3 separate regions of the Homo sapiens genome follow, and all the other regions are linked to region 3. The links come from fine-mapping of genetic effects on gene expression. A gene starts in region 3. Each other region holds a variant in brackets. All regions are shown on one strand. Distances are between the middles of the regions.

The links. PIP is the estimated chance that this variant, and not a neighbour inherited with it, causes the effect.
Region 1: its variant is the best candidate, but not a certain one, in a credible set for the expression of OPTN in spleen (GTEx, PIP 0.58).
Region 2: its variant is the best candidate, but not a certain one, in a credible set for the expression of OPTN in aorta (GTEx, PIP 0.79).

Annotation. Positions count from the first base shown.
Region 1 is chr10:13,129,263-13,134,262 of GRCh38, reverse strand. It overlaps OPTN (optineurin), which reads right to left. Exons shown (of 15, transcript NM_001008212.2): 13 at 2,066-2,196; 14 at 682-761. Among named protein-coding and RNA genes, the nearest start is that of MCM10, 30 kb to the left of the region's middle. The variant C/A (reference allele first, on the strand shown) is at 3,117.
Region 2 is chr10:13,064,625-13,071,244 of GRCh38, reverse strand. It overlaps a transcript of CCDC3 not described here. Among named protein-coding and RNA genes, the nearest start is that of OPTN, 32 kb to the left of the region's middle. RefSeq lists enhancers at 4,005-4,518, 4,519-5,033. The variant TTGGATATCCA/A (reference allele first, on the strand shown) is at 3,357.
Region 3 is chr10:13,097,213-13,103,832 of GRCh38, reverse strand. It overlaps OPTN (optineurin), which reads right to left and starts at 3,670. Exons shown (of 15, transcript NM_001008212.2): 1 at 3,531-3,670. It also overlaps a transcript of CCDC3 not described here. RefSeq lists an enhancer at 2,885-3,014 and silencers at 3,295-3,864, 4,335-4,394.

The sequences.
Region 1 (5,000 bases), 31 kb before region 3:
TGGAGGAAGACAGGAATATGCATAAGAAAAGGGCGTCTCTGTGAAGGGCATAATACAAGCAAATACAAGCTTAGGACAAGTTCAAGGGGATGATTCAGTCTGGCTAATGTCTGTAAGAGAACAGAGGGAGACACGGTTTAAAAGTGTGGCTGTAGGCCGGGTACAGTGGCTTGCGCCTGTAATCCCGGTACTTTGGGAGACCGAGACAGGCAGGTTAGTTGAGGTCAGGAGTTCGAGACCAGCCTGGCCAACACGGTGAAACCCCATCTCTATTAAAAATACAAAAATTAGCTGGGTGTGGCGGTGCACGCCTGTAATTCCAGCCACTCGGGAGGCTGTGGAAGGAGAACCGTTTGAACACAGGAAGTGGAGGTTGCAGTGAGCCGAGATCTCGCCACTGCACTCCAGCCTGGACGACACAGCGAAATTCTGTCTCAAAAAAAAAGAAAAAAAAGAAAAAGTGTGGCCGTGCCAGGCACCTTCTGGCAGGGTGAAGGGTCTGGTCTGGATTCGGTGGGTAATGGATGGAGATGGGAGTGCTGTGGTAATGAGACTGACGGGTGCTATATTTTTGGTGCCTTGATTTGGAATCCATTGTAGAGAATGAAGTGGAATTTTTCTTCAAGCATCTTTTTCATAGGATAGCTATTTCCTGAAAATCCAGGATCACACGGGACTCACCTCTTTGAACAAGGTAAGCCTGCTGGTCAGAGTCACTTGTTCTCGCCCCATGACGACTCTGCATCTCCATCAAGGACTGCCTGCCAGGACGAAAAGCAACACGCTGTGTGATGTTCTACAACCCCGAAACATGACAACACTGAGCAGACAGTCCACAGAAGTAGGGGAAAAAAGACTCAAACTACACTGCCAAGGTTCATAAAAACCAGACTAATTTTAGTTTTAAATACTATTGGCACTAGGAGACTAGTGAAAGTAAATAATTACAGTTAAAAAAAATCAGGAAATAACCAAACTGTCATCAGTAGGAAACAGATTAGAAAGAAGTGGCATATTTATAAATCAAAATACAGCAATGAAGTATAATAAATTACATCCGCACATATCAAGAGAGCTCAAAATCATAATATTATGTAAAGTAAGCTGCAGAACAATACCTACAGTGATCATTTTGTAACTTAAACACAGAGAAATCAATATTATCTGGTTTTGAGATATGATATAGGTAAGTGTGTATGTGATATGTAAAAGTATAAAATAGATGGGGAAGCTACCCACCAAATTCCTAACAGCACAAGGTAAAGAAGAAAGGAATATAATGATGGATGGGGAACAAAGGAGACTTTGATTCTAACTACAACTCCCTTTTTCCTTTAATAAAAAAAAAATACTTGAAGCAAATAAAAGCAGTTGTCAATGCAGGAAGGAGTACATAGTAGAGTCTGTTATTTTATTCTCTGAATTTTGCTGTGTTTTAAAACTTTCTCAAAATAAATTTCTAAAAGTCAGAAGTAATTTTTGTTAGTATTTTTTAAAGAATATTCAGGAATTTAAAGTGCTACGAATATTTCATCCGTGACGATGGCAAGATAGGTCATTGGGACACGTAACATTATTGTTACAAGTGCATGGTGGCATGCACTTGTAGTTCCAGCTACTCGGGAGGCTGAGGCACGAGGATCACCTGAGCTCAGGAAGTTGAGGCTGCAGTGAACCATGATCATGCCACTGCACTCCAGCCTGGGTGACAGGAGTGAGACCCTGCCTCAAAAAACAAAACAAAACAACACAACATTTTAAAATCAAATCAAAATCCTTGCTTATCTAAAAGCAAGGAGCTTGATCAAGCTCCCACAAGTCTCTGTCAAGCTTTCCTGTAAGACAAACTAAGTGTTGGGAACATGATCACATGAAGTGTAAGTGAAGCAATTATTATTATTATTATTTATTTTTCAGACAGGGGACTCGCTCTGTCACCTAGGCAGGAGTGCAGTGGCGCGAACACAGCTATTCTTATAGTTCAAATCAGGAACGTCTTTGGACAGGCACCTCTTCTACGGCCATGCTGATGTGAGCTCTGGGTCCTCCTCTCTCTTTTCCTTACCTGCCTCCGTCTTCGAAAGCATCATTCTCTTTCAGCAGAACTGCCAGCTGCAATGCCAGTTGCTCCTTTTCCTCATGAATTTTCTCTCTCGCTGCTCTTTCAGCATGAAAATCAGAACAGTAAACTTCCATCTGTTAGAGGAAAAAAAGATACAGAAGTTAGTACCTAGATGAATGCAGATTCTTACAGTGTTTATGCGATGAGGAGGTAGTGCTGTATCCTTCAATAGCCCTTGTGAATCACAGATGCACAATCCTGCTAGAAAACAGTATAATGACCATGACTTTCCAGGTACATTCCGATAGCAGATACAAGCTGTGTTTGTGTGTGTGCTTTAAACAACACAAATCCTGCAACTGCACTGATATAGGTAGTTTAAATACTGTAGGTACCATTAATTCAGCAAAATTATCTGGACTTTTAGATAATAAACAATTCAGGATCAACTTAATATAGTAAATGATTACTTAATATAGTAAATTGATTCTGCCAGGTGTATTTATGAAGGCTGGTCTTAAGCTAAATTTAAAAGAATAATCATCACAAATAGATGCTATTTGTTAAATTCCAAACATGTGTGAGGTCCTATGTTGGGTGCTTTACATTTACTATCTTATTTTACCTTATGAAATATCCTGAGAATAAAGAATGGCTATCCTCATTTTACAAACTTAACGGCTCTTAATCTTGGGAAAATTTGTTAAGTGGCCAAATCAGCATTTGAACCAGACAGAAGACCATTTCCCATGAACTTTTCCATATTCAATCCATGTCCCATGTGTGGTCACCAGCCTCCTAAGATGGCTCCAGTGATCCTTGCCTCTTGGTATTCATCACCTTGTATGTTTCCCTCCCACAATGAATAAACCCAACCTGTGTAACCTCCAGGATGCCGCAGAAGTGATGGTGTACGGCTTCTGAGACTAGGTCACAAAAGACGCTGTCACTCCTTGCTCTCTGTTGGATCACTTGCTTTGGGGGAAGCCAGCTGCCATGACATGAGGGCACCCAAGCATCCCTCTGGAGGAGACCACATGGTGAGGAACTGAGG[C/A]CTCCTGCTGACAGCCTGGGCAACATGGCAAAACCTCATCGCTACTAAAAATACAAAAAATCAGCTGGGCATGATGGCATGCACTTGTAGTTCCAGCTACTTGGGAGGCTGAGGCACGAGGATCACCTGAGCCCAGGAAATAGAGGTTGCAGTGAACCACGATCATGCGACTGCACTCCAGCCTGGGTGACAGGAGTGTGACCCTGCCTCAAAAAACAAAACAACACAACATTTTAAAAATTAAGTAATTTTTAAAAAATTATAAATAACAAAACACTTAATAGTGTTTTAATATTTAATGCTGTCAGCTAATTGAGTGAACTGTTCCATTGGTATTGGAATTTAATACTAATTTTTCACTTTCTATGTTTAAAATTAGTTTTTTCTTTTCAAATTTGCTGGTTCTGAGATATAAATTATTATCCATTATTTTAAAAGTAAAATTAAAAATCTAAATATTCTATCAAAACTATAGTTACTTAAAAGTATGTAATAAAGAGATCATTTTAAGGGATATCCTATCAATGTGAGTGGTTCAGCATCTCACAGTGTTGGCAGTGGATCATGGGTGTTTTGGAGTATGACTTAAATTCGATTTAGTCTCACTTCTATCACTTACTAGCTTTGAGCCAGTAAGAACAGAGTCTTTGTTTTGTCTATTCCTATATCCCAGGCAGTAAGAACAGTGTCTGATTTTTTTTTTTTTTTTTTTTTTTTTTTTTGAGATAGAGTCTCGCTCTGTCGCCCAGGCTGGAGTGCAGTGGCATGATCTCGGCTCACTGCAACCTCTGCCTCCCAGGTTCAAGCAATTCTCCTGCCTCAGCCTCCCGAGTAGCTGGGACTACAGGTGCCCGCCAACACGCTCGGCTAATTTTTGTATTTTTAGTAGAGACGGGGTTTCACCATATTGGCCAGGTTGGTCTCGAACTCCTGACCTTGTAATCTGCCTGCCTCGGCCTCCCAAAGTGCTGGGATTACAGGTGTGAGCCACCATGCCCGGCCGTCTCTGACATATTATAAGTGCTCAAAAAAGAAGTTATTGAATGAATGAGCAAGAGTATCCATCAAGAGAAAACAAATGTCTATGTCTAGAATGAGCAAAAATACATGACTGCAGCAGAGTGGAAGAACCCAATGACATGAGTTACCCAAGCAAGGAAATGCTCTGAAGAGCTGAGAATGCAGGTTGAGGCTCTATTCCTGTAGAAATAAAACTAAAGCTATAAGTACCAGTCAACTGGCTGCATTTCACAGGGGTCAGCCACTCTGGGCAGCTGGTGATAATGAGTCTGTATGTAGGGAATAACAAACTGCTGACATTATTATATTAAAAATAATATGTTCATCAGATTGGCCAAGGTTTTTAAAATAATGCAAGAATGTGAGGACATAGGAGTGCTTATCTTTTGGTGAGAGTATAATTTTGGTTAGGCAGTTTTAGAAGACAGCTTGGTAATATTTATTTAACTGAGAAATGGACATAACTCATGATCCAACCATTCAAATGGATGCTGGCCAGGCACGGTGGCTCACGCCCGTAATCCCAGCTGGGCAGATCATGAGGTCAACTGTTCGAGACCACCATGGCTAACGTGGTGAAACTCCATCTCTACTAAAAATACAAAAATTAGCTGAGCGTGGTGGTGTGCGCCTGTAGTCCCAGCTACTTGGGAGGCTGAGGCAGGAGAATGGCTTGAACCCGGGAGGTGGAGGTTGCAGTGAGCCAAGATCGTGCCACTGCACTCCAGCCTGGTGACAGAGCTAGACTCTGTCTCAAAAAAAAAAAAAAAGTTTGATGCTTTATAATAAGACAGCATGGTACCAGAGCAAAGATATATGAGTAGACCAATAAAATAGAACAAAATCCAGAAACAGACCCATGCA
Region 2 (6,620 bases), 33 kb after region 3:
AGTCCTCCTCCAACCAGGGAGAGAAAAGGATGTCTTGTGACACCCCTAGATCACTGGTGGCTATAGTTATGCTTGCTAAGATTTGGACGCATGGGGCTTGGCTTTGGTTAGCTCCCTTTGTCTTACTTTCCCAAAAAGGAAACCTCTGGGTGGTGGGCATCCTATTTATTTTCATCACCTGGAAGGATTTGCAGGATAACTGCTCAGAAGGAGAATACTGATCCAGATTTTTACGTCACCCATCCCTTTTGTTTTTTTCTGAGCTGCAGCCAGAGATTGCTGTTTGGTTCACAGGAACAAGCAGGGTTCGTCTAAAATGTAGGCAAAAAGTTAAAAACAATGAATGAATCTAGAACCTAATGATAAGTTTTGAAACATTATTTCTCTTTCTCTAGTCTTCATTTTTGTTAAAAACAAATCATGATAGGACTGGGTTGTTTGCAAAATAGACTTTAGTCTTATACTTGGCCCGATTATTTGCATAAAGTGCAGCAAGAATAATTATTTCCACATAGGCCTTTTAGATCGGCTTTCATGGAACTTTGTTCCACAGAGAATCTCAAATAAGACCTTTTAAAGCTGAGCCTAGTCATGGGTTTGTATCCTCAAATACCGATGAGTTGGGCAAACTCCTCTCTTCTTGAGGTTTCAAGAGATATGGTCCCTGGGTCTGTTGGAAAGTGACATTCTTTACCTACCGCAGGTTAGGAACCCTGTATGGGGACTGTGTACGAAGATATGAGGCCAGTTTCTCCCATGGGGCTTTATTGACTCTGCAAGTCAAGCTTGACTCCTTAAAGGGAAGCATACCTTTCCAGTCAAAGCCTCAGTAAAGCAACCAGGTTCTCCAATTGTGTCTTGTTGCAACCAGTTTCTCCAATTGTGTGCTGTTGCAAAAGAAAATGGATTCTTATTGCACTGATGCAAACAACTATATGGCCATAAATTAAGAATACTCACAACTAGTTTCCAAATTCTGGAGAAGCCAGGCAGAGAGACAGAGACAAATATACTCCAAATTTTGTTCACAGGAGTATACCTTACTCAATGATTAAAGGCTGTAAATAGCTCAAAATAAGTTTGCTTGACTCTGAAAAACAAAACAAGGATCAGCAATATTTCAAGCAAAAGTCAAAAGATTACCTCAGTTTTGTATTAGTTTAGACCGTTCAGTTAACTCTTGTTTTGCTTGATATTCATAAACATTTCATCTTTTCATGAGTCCTGTATGTTTTTCCTTTGGAATAATGTCACAATCTCCAAAGTTATCAGAAACCTGCATTTCAGAGCACCTGTCAAAGTTCTATAGCTGGTTATAAACCATCTGTTGAAGAGGATCAAAATAAGACAATTATCTGTAAATAACAAAATGTCCAGGGTAGTTATAGTCAGAAACATGATTGACAAATAAATTTGGTTATCTTCGTGGTTTACAATAACTTAATAACCTTAATTATGATTGATAGCGTATACTCAGACATTAGAATTTTAGACATCCCATACAATTTTGGAACATATATTAATATAATTCTCTAAAATCTAACCTGAAGATTAAACATCATTTTGGCAATCCAATGTACTTAAACATGTCAAATAATCCTGTTCACCTCTCTTTTGGATACTCCAGGGGCCCTCTGTAGCATCCAAAAAGCCAGGCATCAGGAAAGACAATTTTGAAACTGAAGTTTGATTTTGGGAAGTCTGTTATGTGTTAGAAATTTAAAACACCTGATGTTATGAAATACAATTCCAGATTGCCATAAATTATTTATTTTGCCAAAATAATGACTCAGAAATTTTAAAAAAGCAAAAAACCTTTTATAACCTTTTACAAATTTTGCTAAAGAGCAGATTAATGCCTTAAGAGTACCTTGTTGTGCTTTTATTTCAATGCTGAATTTATAGAAGACCATATAATAACCATTTGAATGTAGTTAATATGTTCACACATGGAATTTCTTTTGCAAGATTATTATTATTATTTTTTTGAGGCAGAGTTTCAGTCTTTGTTGCCCAGGCTGGAGTGCAATGGCACAATCTCGGCTCACCGCAACCTCTGCCTCCCGGGTTCAAGTGCTTCTCCTGCCTCAGCCTCCCGAGTAGCTGGGATTACAGGCATGTGCCACCACGCCCAGCTAATTTTGTATTTTTAGTGGAGATGGAGTTTCTCCATGTTGGTCAGGCTGGTCTCGAACTCCCGACCTCAGGTGATCCGCCTGCCTTGGCCTCCCAAAGTGCTGGGATTACAGGCATGAGCCACCACACCCGGCCAAGATTAATTTTTATACTCCTTTCATCATTTGATTAAACCTTCAGCTTTACCTTATCTAATTCAAAACAATCCTTCAAGCCTAGGAAAGAATTTACATTTCTACGCCTTCTTATCATCTTTTGCTAAAAACACATCTTACTGTTCTTATACACCTCACATGTAAATCTATTTCCAGTAGTTTCAGTTACATGTTATAATGGTAACTCCCAGCAATTTTTAACTTTTATGTAGAACCTAGTAAGTTGTTATAATTATGTACAAGTCGCAGCCAAGGTTTGACTCCTTCCAGCATAATTAAGGGTGTGGTTTATTCCATATGTCTGTAGGCCTCACCAGTTGTGAAGCAGGCAAGTCAAACTGTTCACAAAAACCAAAAAAGGCAGTTTATAACCTTAAAACATTTAGCAAACCTAATATCTGACCTGCATAATTTAGATCACCTATTTACATTTTGATGACATCTACATTTTACCAATAATCTTTAAGGCTGCTTTTATTCCTCGAGGATTAAAGTCATGTGAACTGAAAGGTACCACAGCTTTTATCTTCCCTTTTAAAAAATATTTGATTCAAGTGCTTATCCTCTTTTAAGTCAATGAAGTAGAGCTCTTTTTTATAGACATCACATACACGACACATATTTAACTACACAAGCAGAAGAAAATGCAGTAGCTGTGAAATTTTTCGTCTGCCAATCTCCTAATTGGATTATTGGCTTCCGGGTGTTGCCTTTTAAGAGACAGGGCCAGAAAAACATGCAGCTTTTAAGGCCTAATAAAATAGGCATGACTGGGAGGCAAAAACAGATTTTGAGAGGGATATATCTGCATTTAATTCCCGGGGTTCCATGAGAAAAACAGGTTTCTTCCCAAAACGGGGTTAGTGGCACCTTGTCTGTTTTTCCCAAGGAGTCCCATGCCCCCAGGAGTTATCTTAGGGCCTCTCATGCATACATTAAGAGTGACAAGGCAAAATGGAGAAAAATAATTCAGTCTACTGAGAAAAAGCCCTTTTCCAGCAAAGAGATCCAAGAAAACAAACAAACAAACAAAAAACGTAAAGACCTTTTAAATATACTTATAAC[TTGGATATCCA/A]CTTTTAATTAAGCTGAGTGCTCTTTGAGAAAAACCTTTTAACTGCCTTATTACCCAACTAGCCGTGCCAAGTGGCCAATATTTCTGGCTTTCAAACTTTGCTAAAGGTGATGTCCCAGGTGCTCAGAGAAAGGAAGATAAAAGGTGGTTCGTGGAGGGGAAGAGAATCAGCAACAGATCATGCAGATATCAAACCAGAAAGGACTTATTCCCTAAGCCAGGATTGAACCCGGCCGCCATTGTAAAATGGTGGAGGCTAAGACAAAACGTTGCCACGTGGTTACAGGTCATGCTCCCTAAAACAAGATGGAGGCCCGCAGCAAGGTTTGCTACTCACCATACAGAAAGTCATGCAAAGCCCACAAGACTGGCTACAGCTTAAGACCAACCTCACAAATCCTTTTTCATAATTAAAACTTTACAGAGAATATAAACAGTGATCCTTATTCCTGGCCTAGTAAAATGTCTTCAAAAAGGAAAAAAAAAACCTCTCACTTAAAAGTTAAATGCTGACAGGGTAGAGAAAAGGAAAAAATAGTTTAAAATGCAGGGTTGGAAAGATGCCTGGGGAAAATACCTCTTACTCTTATACAAATGGGTTCCTCCGACAGGGAGAGAAACTTAATTGCTGTCCACCATTGGGCACCCTTGGGCCATGGGCCATGCACCCCAACCCTGGCTGGGAGGGGAGCGGGGAACCCACCATTCGCCAGTCTATCTCGCAGGTGCCTGCAGCCATTGGGGTGAGGGGGTGTGCAGTTTCCTCTACCCTCAGAAGAAGCCCAAGGACAAAAAGGCTTGGAAGCGAAAGGGGAAAAAGATTTTTTGGTTCACATCTTACCCACCCCTCCTCAAGCCCCACACCTAGGAGCCAAAATGTTGCAGAATTTTGCTCCTTAGTTCAGCTAAAACTGGGCTCTAGCTTGTCAGAAGACCAGGAGAATTATATGTAGACACATTGAAGGGTGGGCAGAGGAGGGTTTTATTGGGCGAAAAGGGAAAAAAACAAAAAAACTCAGCAAAGTGAGGTGGCTTCCTGCTAACAAGTCCCCCACCTCACAGATTGAATCCCAGGTCACCACACAAGAACTGAAGAGCCAGGCTCCTCCCGCTGCCTGTGGCTCCACCCCGTTCCCCCAGTGCACGTGTGGGCAGGCTCAGACGAGGCCCTGGGCAGGTTCCCTCATCTGCACAAAAGCATCTGATGTCAACACTTGTGGGGTGGGTCGGAGGTTCTCTGGGGACACTGTTTTATCTGCCTAGGCATTTGGCTGTCTCATCATGGTATACAAATACTATGGGTTTTGCTGTTTGCCTTAATTCCAGTGATCTCACAACACTGGTGCCCAAAACTAAACATCTCTTTCTTCCAGGAAAATTGATTTCTTACAAAAGAATATTACAAACTGTTACAAGTTTGAGCTTAATTATAAAATCTGTGGAGAGGTGTGGTGTGTAATTCAGATTATTCCAATGAAGCAGTCAAAAAATATCTGCTAAAACATACCCTGGTAAACCAGTGGCTCTCAAATTTGTGGGCTAAAGAATCACCTGATTAGCTGAGCGTGGTGGTGCATACCTGTGGTCCCAGCTACTCAGAGGCTGAGGTGGGAGAATCACCTGAGCCCGGGAGGGCAAGGGTGCAGTGGGCCAAGATCGTACCATTGTACTCCAGTTTGGGTGATGGGAATGAGACCCTGTCTAAAAAAAAAAAATCACCTAGGGTGCTTGTTAAGCTGCAAATTCCTAGGCTCAACTCCAGATATTCTAATGAAAGGAACTGGGGATGGAGCCCAGGATTTTGCATCTCAATCATTTCAGATGATTCTGATGCAGAAGATTCAAAGACCTCTTTTAGAGAAACATTACCCTAAGCAAGGGCAGAGTTGGTCAGTTGCAGAGGTCTTCCAACTCACTTCCCACTCATTCGTTCACTCATTCTTTCCTGAACTTATTAATTCAACAAACATTTATAGTGCCCTATCATTGTACATGGTGATGTGGACTTGGTAATGTAAAGAGACTCGGTTCCTGTCTGGATGGAACTTATATCTAATGACTGATATATATATATGACATTGATGTATGATTGACAGCATCAACTGGTAAGTATTGAATGTGTCCATACATGCCAAAGAGAATGTTGCAGGGATTTAGAAGGAAGTTGTGTCAACGTGGGTTCAAGTGGGCAGGAATGGAGGAGCTATTCTGTGGAGGGGGTAGGACATTGCCTGGGCCCTGACTGTTGAGGAATGAGCAGGATATCGAAGAGAAGGAAACAGCATTAGCTTCATATCGTAATTATTAAGCAAGAACGTTCTTAATATCCATAAGCCTATACTAAAGATAGAGTGGCCAAGCATGCCCAGGATTAAAACTATAATCTCATTAACTACCTTCCAAGGAGAAATAAAGAATAAGAAGTGAGAAGTTCCTGAATCAGCAACATCATCTCCTTGTTTTTTCAATATTCTGATGCCCATTGGACCATTTTTATGCTAATAAGTTGATCAATAGTAGGATGTTTTGATGTGACGTGTTTATATGGTATTGCTTTTCTCCTAGGTCCATATCTATTTCATCCAGCTACTTCCAAAAAGTTAAAAACACTAAACATAAGATCCTTGTAGGATATAAACAATTAGCACTCTAGGAAGATTAGGACTGTTTGAAACCAAGAGAGGCAGGTTAATCTAATTAAAAATTACTTCTTATTTAACAAAGAGATCTGTATTCATTAAGACTTCTACTTAGACATACTATTTTTAGCTATATTTTGCCAATCCTATTACATGTGTGAAAAATAAATAAATCTCGGAAATCTTGGGGCTGCAAAATCACTAAGCTAAAGAGGAAAGTCAAGCTGAGAATTGCTTAGGGACAACCTGCCTCCCACTCTATTCAAAGTCATCCCTCTGCTCACCGAGATAAATGCATATCTGATTGCCTCCCTTGGGAAAAGCTGATCAGAAACTCAAAAGGATGTAACCATTTGTCTCTCATCTACCTGTGACCTAGAAGCCTTCTCCTTACTTCAGTTGTCCTGCCTTTCAGGACAGAACCAGTGTATGTCTTTTATTTATTTATTTATTAGACAGAGTCTCATTCTGTCGCCCAGGCTGGAGTGCAGTGGCCCCTGATCTTGGCTCACTGCAAGCTCCGCCTTCCAGGTTCACGCCATTCTCCTGCCTCAGCCTCCCCAGTAGCTAGGACTACAGGCACCCACCACCATACCCGGCTAATTTTTTATATTT
Region 3 (6,620 bases):
AGATGGATGGCCAAAAGCAAGTCCCCTAGATTTTATTCCCAGATCTGCTATCTCAATTCCTGATTGTGTGTGTGTGTGTGTGTGTGTGTGCATGTGTGTGTATATACATTTAAATTCCAGAGATCAAGTAATTCTAGTAATGACCTGACCTTGTAAACACGAGCATACATCTGATTGCTGAGTTGGCCTTAGAAATGATCCAGACCAATATATTCAATGCAAGAATGTCTTGTCTGGTTTCGATGGCACATGATCCTATAGAGCAGGCTTGAGTATTTCAATGACAGAGCACGAGTGCAGTGACCTTAGCAGGCACTGTCTGTTCCACTGTGGGATGGCTCTAGTGGTCAGAAAGTCATAATGTGTCAAATGGTACCTGCCTTACACTGACTTCCCCCCAGTGGACACTGCACATAGTATAAGGTTAGGCCCTTGCCCTGGTATGGCCAAGTCTTCAAATTTGCTAATGAAGTATTCGTAGGTTCAATCCCTACATGGGATAAATGAGTTTTAAACAGTGAAAACTTGCTTTTTGACCAGAGACAAGAGTTGGCTACTGGCAAATGCTATGAAGAGTTTGGGTTCACAAGGGGGGTAAGATTCTAACATTGCATTGACTAAACCCTTCCCACCTTGGAAAAAGAACTTAGAGTATGCATCCTACTAATGGGGTAAAAGCAGCCTCGTCATTACACACTAGAAGGGATATTGTGACTTCGTATTTTAGTAATATACAGAAAATGGCAGCAGCTTTAACCTAGCTCCCCAAGGCAGGAACCTGGGAGTAAGGCTTGATTCTTCCCAGCCCCCTTTTCCCCAAGTCTAATGGGTCACCAAATGCCATCACCTCTACCTCCTAAATATTTATTTTTTCTTTTTTTTTTTAAATTAAGACTCAGTCTCACTCTGTCGCCCAGGCTAGAGTGCCGTGGCAAAATCTCAGCTCACTGCAACCTCCGCCTCCCAGGTTCAAGCAATTCTCCCACCTCAGCCTCCCAAGTAGCTGGGATTACAGGTGCATGCCACCATTCCCAGCTAATTTTTGTATTTTTAGTAGAGACAGGGTTTTGCCACGTTGGCCAGGCTGGTCTTGAACTCCTGATCTCAAGTGATCCACCCACCTCGGCCTCCCTAAGTGCTGGGATTACAGGCATGAGCCACCATGCCTGGCCCTTCTAAGTGTTTCTAAAATCCACTGCCTCCTCTCCATCCCCACAGGCTTAGTTCAGGCCCTTATCTTGTCTGTACCACAGCCATGTTGACCTCCACAAAGGACAGGGGTTCTGCCTATTTTGTCCACTGCTGTATCCCCAGGACTGAGAACATTACTTGCCACATAGAAGGCAGGACTCGGTAAATATCTGTTGAATACATTTTAACAGCCTCCTAAATGACTGGCTTTCAGCCCTGTCAATTTCAGTCCTCTTGCCCTCATGGTTTCTTTTGCAATATGAGGTCATTCCCCTGAGTCCACCCTTCCCATACACGACAGACTTTCAGTTTCTTAACAAGACAAACGTGGCCTTTCAGGGCCCAGGCCCAACTGACCCACCAGAGTCACCTCCTGCCACCAAAACACTCGTACCCAAGGCACGTTAAAGAGCTCACGGTTCCCTGCATTCTTCTGTCTCTGCGTCCTTGCCTCCCTTCTGCCCTCTGCCCGAAATGTCTGGCTCCCCTTGTGTCCTGGCAAACTTCCACTGGACAGATCAATGTCCAGCTTAAATATGATGTCCTGTGTCATATGAACTGTTCCCTACTCCGAGCACCCAAGAACACTCTGCATTTCCACCTCCTCCGCCCATTCTGAAATTACTGCTATCGTCTGCCCGTCTATTTTCTCTCCATGTTATTCTTACTAGAGACTGGCACATAGCAGGCTTGCAGTAAATGTTGGTTGAAATGAAATGAAAATATAGCATAATGAGGTATTTTTAAGTCTAATACCTGTAAAATGCTTTCTGCTGTGTAGGTGACAAACTCAGCATGCCAGTATTGTTAGGAGTTTCTCCACAGTTCCACGGCATTCACTTCCAGATTCTCAAAATCCTCCTTTCTAACTTATTTGAAAAATTAGAAGTGTTTTCTGTCACTGCAAAGCCATCTGGGTATCACTTCATAACACAGATTCTAATGCTCCTCATACACATGTCAAAGTGGAAATAACAAAAACTTTTAATTTTTTCTTTCTAAATGAAATATTTTTTTAAAAAAAAGTTTAATTTTTTTCTTTTTCCTTTGGGTTTTCTATTTCATAAATTCCAAAGAACATATATCAAATATGCCAAATCTCTATAAAACAGAAGGTGTATTTCATGGCCAGAATACTTATGCGCCTCTACCTAAGTAAGGGCGGGGGTTCGGCAGGACATAATACAGTGTCCAGTTGCCCTCGAGAATAAAGTTTGGTTTTCCGGGGGTGGGTGGGGGGGTGGGGGGGTGGAGGTTAGGTTAGTTATATTCCTAGCATAATATGCAACCTAAAGGTTAGTTTATAAAAAAAGAAGCTGTTACTTTTATTGTGTTGTACGTAATATATAAAGAACGCCTAAAATTGGCCCAGTGGAAAAACAGATGAATTATGCCAGGACTTAAATCAATGATCGTCCTCTGTCTACAGGTCACATTTAAACTTGCCTTGTCCACTCCAGGGCAATCCCTGGCCTTGGGGTCTGCCCTGGGACTTCTCCAGCCCCCGCCCCAAAACTGGGCCTGTCCTGGGAGGCAGCCTGGCACCACTAACTCTTCTCTCCCTGGGTCAAAAGAGCAAGGTGGGTTCTTCTGTTCACACAGCCTGCACCTTGCTAACCAGATCCAAAGGCTTCTGAGGTCCTCACATTGCCTTACTTTTCTATGCTTTCATTTTCCATTTCATCCTTACAAACAGTTCCTTGGTGTACATTTCCATACAACAGTTTTCCTGCTGGTGGAGGCCAGGTCGGAACCTGGGTTTCATTTTCTTTGAGCGATGTTTACTTCCTGTAGCTTATGCATTTCGATGGCAAAAACAATTCCTTTGGGGTTCTCGGCCTCATCAAATATTCTCTCTATATAGAGTGTACACACTCTCCTAGACACAGCAGTCTATGTGGATTCCCACCGACCCTGGGCACCTCATTCAGCTCGGGTAGTGGTCCCATGTCTCCCACAGGCGTGTCTGTAACCACCTCCTTATGGCGAGGAACTGGCTGCGGAATCCTTCCCAGCCTGCGGGAGGACGTCACCTCCAAGTCTCTGGGTGACTTGTAGAGGGGTTACCTGCGGCCAAGAGGCCGGCCCTGGACCCTTCTTGGGCCCACCCTGTGTTCACTACCCACCCTCTCCCACCAGGTCAGGACCCGCCGAGGCTTGGGGATCCTCCCAGGGCAGCCGTCTCGCGGGAGGGCCGCCCCACCCCTCGCCACCCTCACCCCGACAGGCTCCGGGCCGCGGGGCAGGGCGGCGGGTACCGTTTTCAGGCCGCGGAAGCGCCCGCCGGGAAGGAGCCGCCGCCCCCTCGCCCACCGCTGCAGCCCCCTGCCCTGGCTCACCTGCCGCCCGGCTTGGCTTCGCTCAGGGTCACTGTTTCCTCGGCATCGTGCCGCCTGGAGAGAACTCCCGACCGGGATGGGACGCTGACCAGGGAACCTGCCGGCGGGCGGCGGCGGTGGCGGAGGGGGCAGCCGGGACTGGGGTGCCTAGGGCTGATGCGCGGCCTGGCGACCCCGCCCAGCGCGGCTCAGCTGACAGCCAGCCGCTCCCTGCCCGCGCCGGGGAATTTCCCGGGCCCCGCCCATCCCATACCCCGCCCATCCCCCCCACCCTGCCCATTCCATACCCCACCCGACCAAGGCCCCGCCCCTCCTCTTTCCTGCGTCCGCCCCCAGCTACCCACCCTCGCTGTCCGTGCGGGGTCGAGGCTGGGACCCGGGTGAACAGGGACTGCTCTAAGGCGTCACTGTGACGGCGTTAATCAAAATAAATCATTAATCAAATGCAGTGTGCGGAGTTCGTCTTCCCCGTGTCTTCCCGCAGATCCCGTAGTGGAGGCTGGAGCCGCAGGGGGTCGCTGCCGCCCACAGAAAGAGGAGAATGCCAGGCATCCTCGGAGGGAGGCCTCCATCTGTGTTTTTTGAAAAAAGGTTAACATCTAGACATAGTTAACTGAGCATACATAGCTTTCCACTCGTTTTTGCTTTAAAATACACTCAAAAAGCAGAAAGCCTGCAGGATGCTTCTTGGGCTCTTGTTGCGGACGAATAGGCTCGGCTATTCTTGTTGCTGAAGAATAGCCTCTGCTGGTGTGGAGGAGGGAAGCTGCCCCCGGATTAGACAGCAGGATGACAAGGTAGGAGCGAGAGCCGCCCTATGTGCATCCAGAGTACCCGGGTAGCGCTGCAGGGATGGGAGGGAGGGAAGGAGGGAGGGGGAGAGAGAGAGAGAGGGAGGGACGGAGAGAGGGAGAGAGGGAGGGAGAGAGGGAGGGAGGGAGAGAGGGAGAGAAAAAAAACAAAACAACAACAACAAAACCTAATCTGAAACAGGAAAAAGGCAGATGCGCCCTCTCCTGGTATCTCCGAAGGATTCTGCTTCGCTGTCTGGACCTCCTGCTGCCTGGCCAAGCCTGACTCTCAACCCTGCCCCTGAGGCTAACCCCAAGAGCAGGGCAGAGAAGCAAGCAAGTCAGCGACTGCCCCAGACCCAATTCCGGGCCCTCGAGTTGGTGTGGTGTAGGAGGGGCAGATGAGGCTAGAGGCTGCTTTATAAGGAGTGAGCCTGGGGGTGGGAGTGGGGAGAAATAGAGAATTTAAAAAAATTCTTTTTATATCAGTGCAGGAGGGCCAGGCGCGGTGGCTCACGCCTGTAATCCCAGCACTTTGGGAGGCCAAGGCAGGCAGATCGCAAGGTCCGGAGTTCGAGACCAGCCTGGCCAATATGGTGAAAGCCTGTCTCTACTAAAAATACAAAAATTAGCCGGGCATGATGGTACTCTCCTGTAGTCCCAGCTACTCGGGAGGCTAAGGCAGAAGAATCGCTTGAACCCGGGAGGCAGAGCTTGCAGCGAGCCGAGATCATGCCACTGCACTCCAGCCTGGGTGACAGAGTGAGACTCCGTCTCAAAAAAAAAAAAAAAAAAAAAAAATCAGTGCAGGAAATAACTGATCATTCATGAAAAGGGCTTGGAAAAATATATACAGAGAGAAATGGAATGACGATCTCTAATTTTTGTTTATCTACTGGGATAATCCAGGCAGAAAAGACGGTGTCACAGCTGTACCCTGGGATCGGCAGAAAAGGGTCCCCCCGGGGCCTGTAAGGGGTGCCTGCGGTAAGTCGTACTTCACTAGGCTCCTTTTACTGTTTAAAACCCTATAGGTGGGGCACGGTGGCTCACACCTGTAATCCCAGCACTTTGGGAGGTCAAGGCAGGAGGATCGCTTGAGCCCAGGAGGGAGAGGCTGCAATGAGCTGTGATTGCAGCACTGCACTCCAGCTTGGGTGAGAGGGAGACTTTGTCTCAAGCAAAAACAAAAACGAGAACAAAACAACACTATGAAAGTGAATTAAAATGAGCATCAGTGAAACTCAGAGCCAAGAGAAGAAGGTCACCCACAAGCTGCCCATGGCTTTGGTGTGGGAGGCTCGAGGTGAGTTTCTGGTACAGAAAGCAGTCAAAGTTGTTTTCTCCTGATTCCTTGCTCTCAGTGGTGGGGTCGGGGTGGGGGGTGCCCTGAAGCACTGCACACACACATGCACACACACTCCCCCGACAACCACTTCTTAGCTGTAGGACCTTGACCAAGTTACTTCATCTTACCCTTCCTCATTCCCTTTATCTGTAAAATGGGGAGTATAGTACACTCCCAAATCCAGAAAGTTCTAAGGACCAAACCTCTTTTCTGACCAGACCCAACTGATGGAAAGCTATTTACAGTCTTTATTTAGATCCCTTGATGTGATTTTTAAATTTGTTTTGTGAAGGAAAATCGAATAGTTGATAGGAGAACTGCGTCAGACAGTGTCAGGGTGTTATGTGATATAAATCCCATTTATTGAATAGCCTTTTGAAAATCCCCAGAATTCTGGACTCTAAAGCAGAGCTTGCCCCAAAGGTTTTATTTTATTTTTTGAGGTGGAGTCTCACTCTGTTGCCCAGGCTGGAGTGCAGTGGCATAATCTCAGCTCACTGCAATCTCCACCTCCTGGGTTTGAGTGATTCTCCTGCCTCAGCCTCCCAAGTGGCTGGGATTACAGGCGTGTGCCACCACACCAAGCTAATTTTTGCATTTTTCGTATTGATGAGGTTTCGCCATGTTGACCAGCCTGGTATTGAACTCCTGACCTCGGGTGATCCACCTGCCTCGGCCTTCCAAAGTGCTGGGATTACATGTGTGAGCCACGGTGCCCAGCCACCCAAAAATTTTAGATAAGGCCTCTGGACCCACAGCCCTCACCTAAGGATGCTGAGAAGATTAAAGAGGAAATACGTCTTCAACACCTAGAAGAACGCCTGGCTCATGGTGTTTGTTGCTGTTGCTTGTGTTAGAGCCGGTTCTGTTTCTTAGCCTGGATCATCCCGTTTGGTGACTCCATCTTCCTGCACACTTCCATGGGTAGATGGAATCTAAATGCAGCGAAAA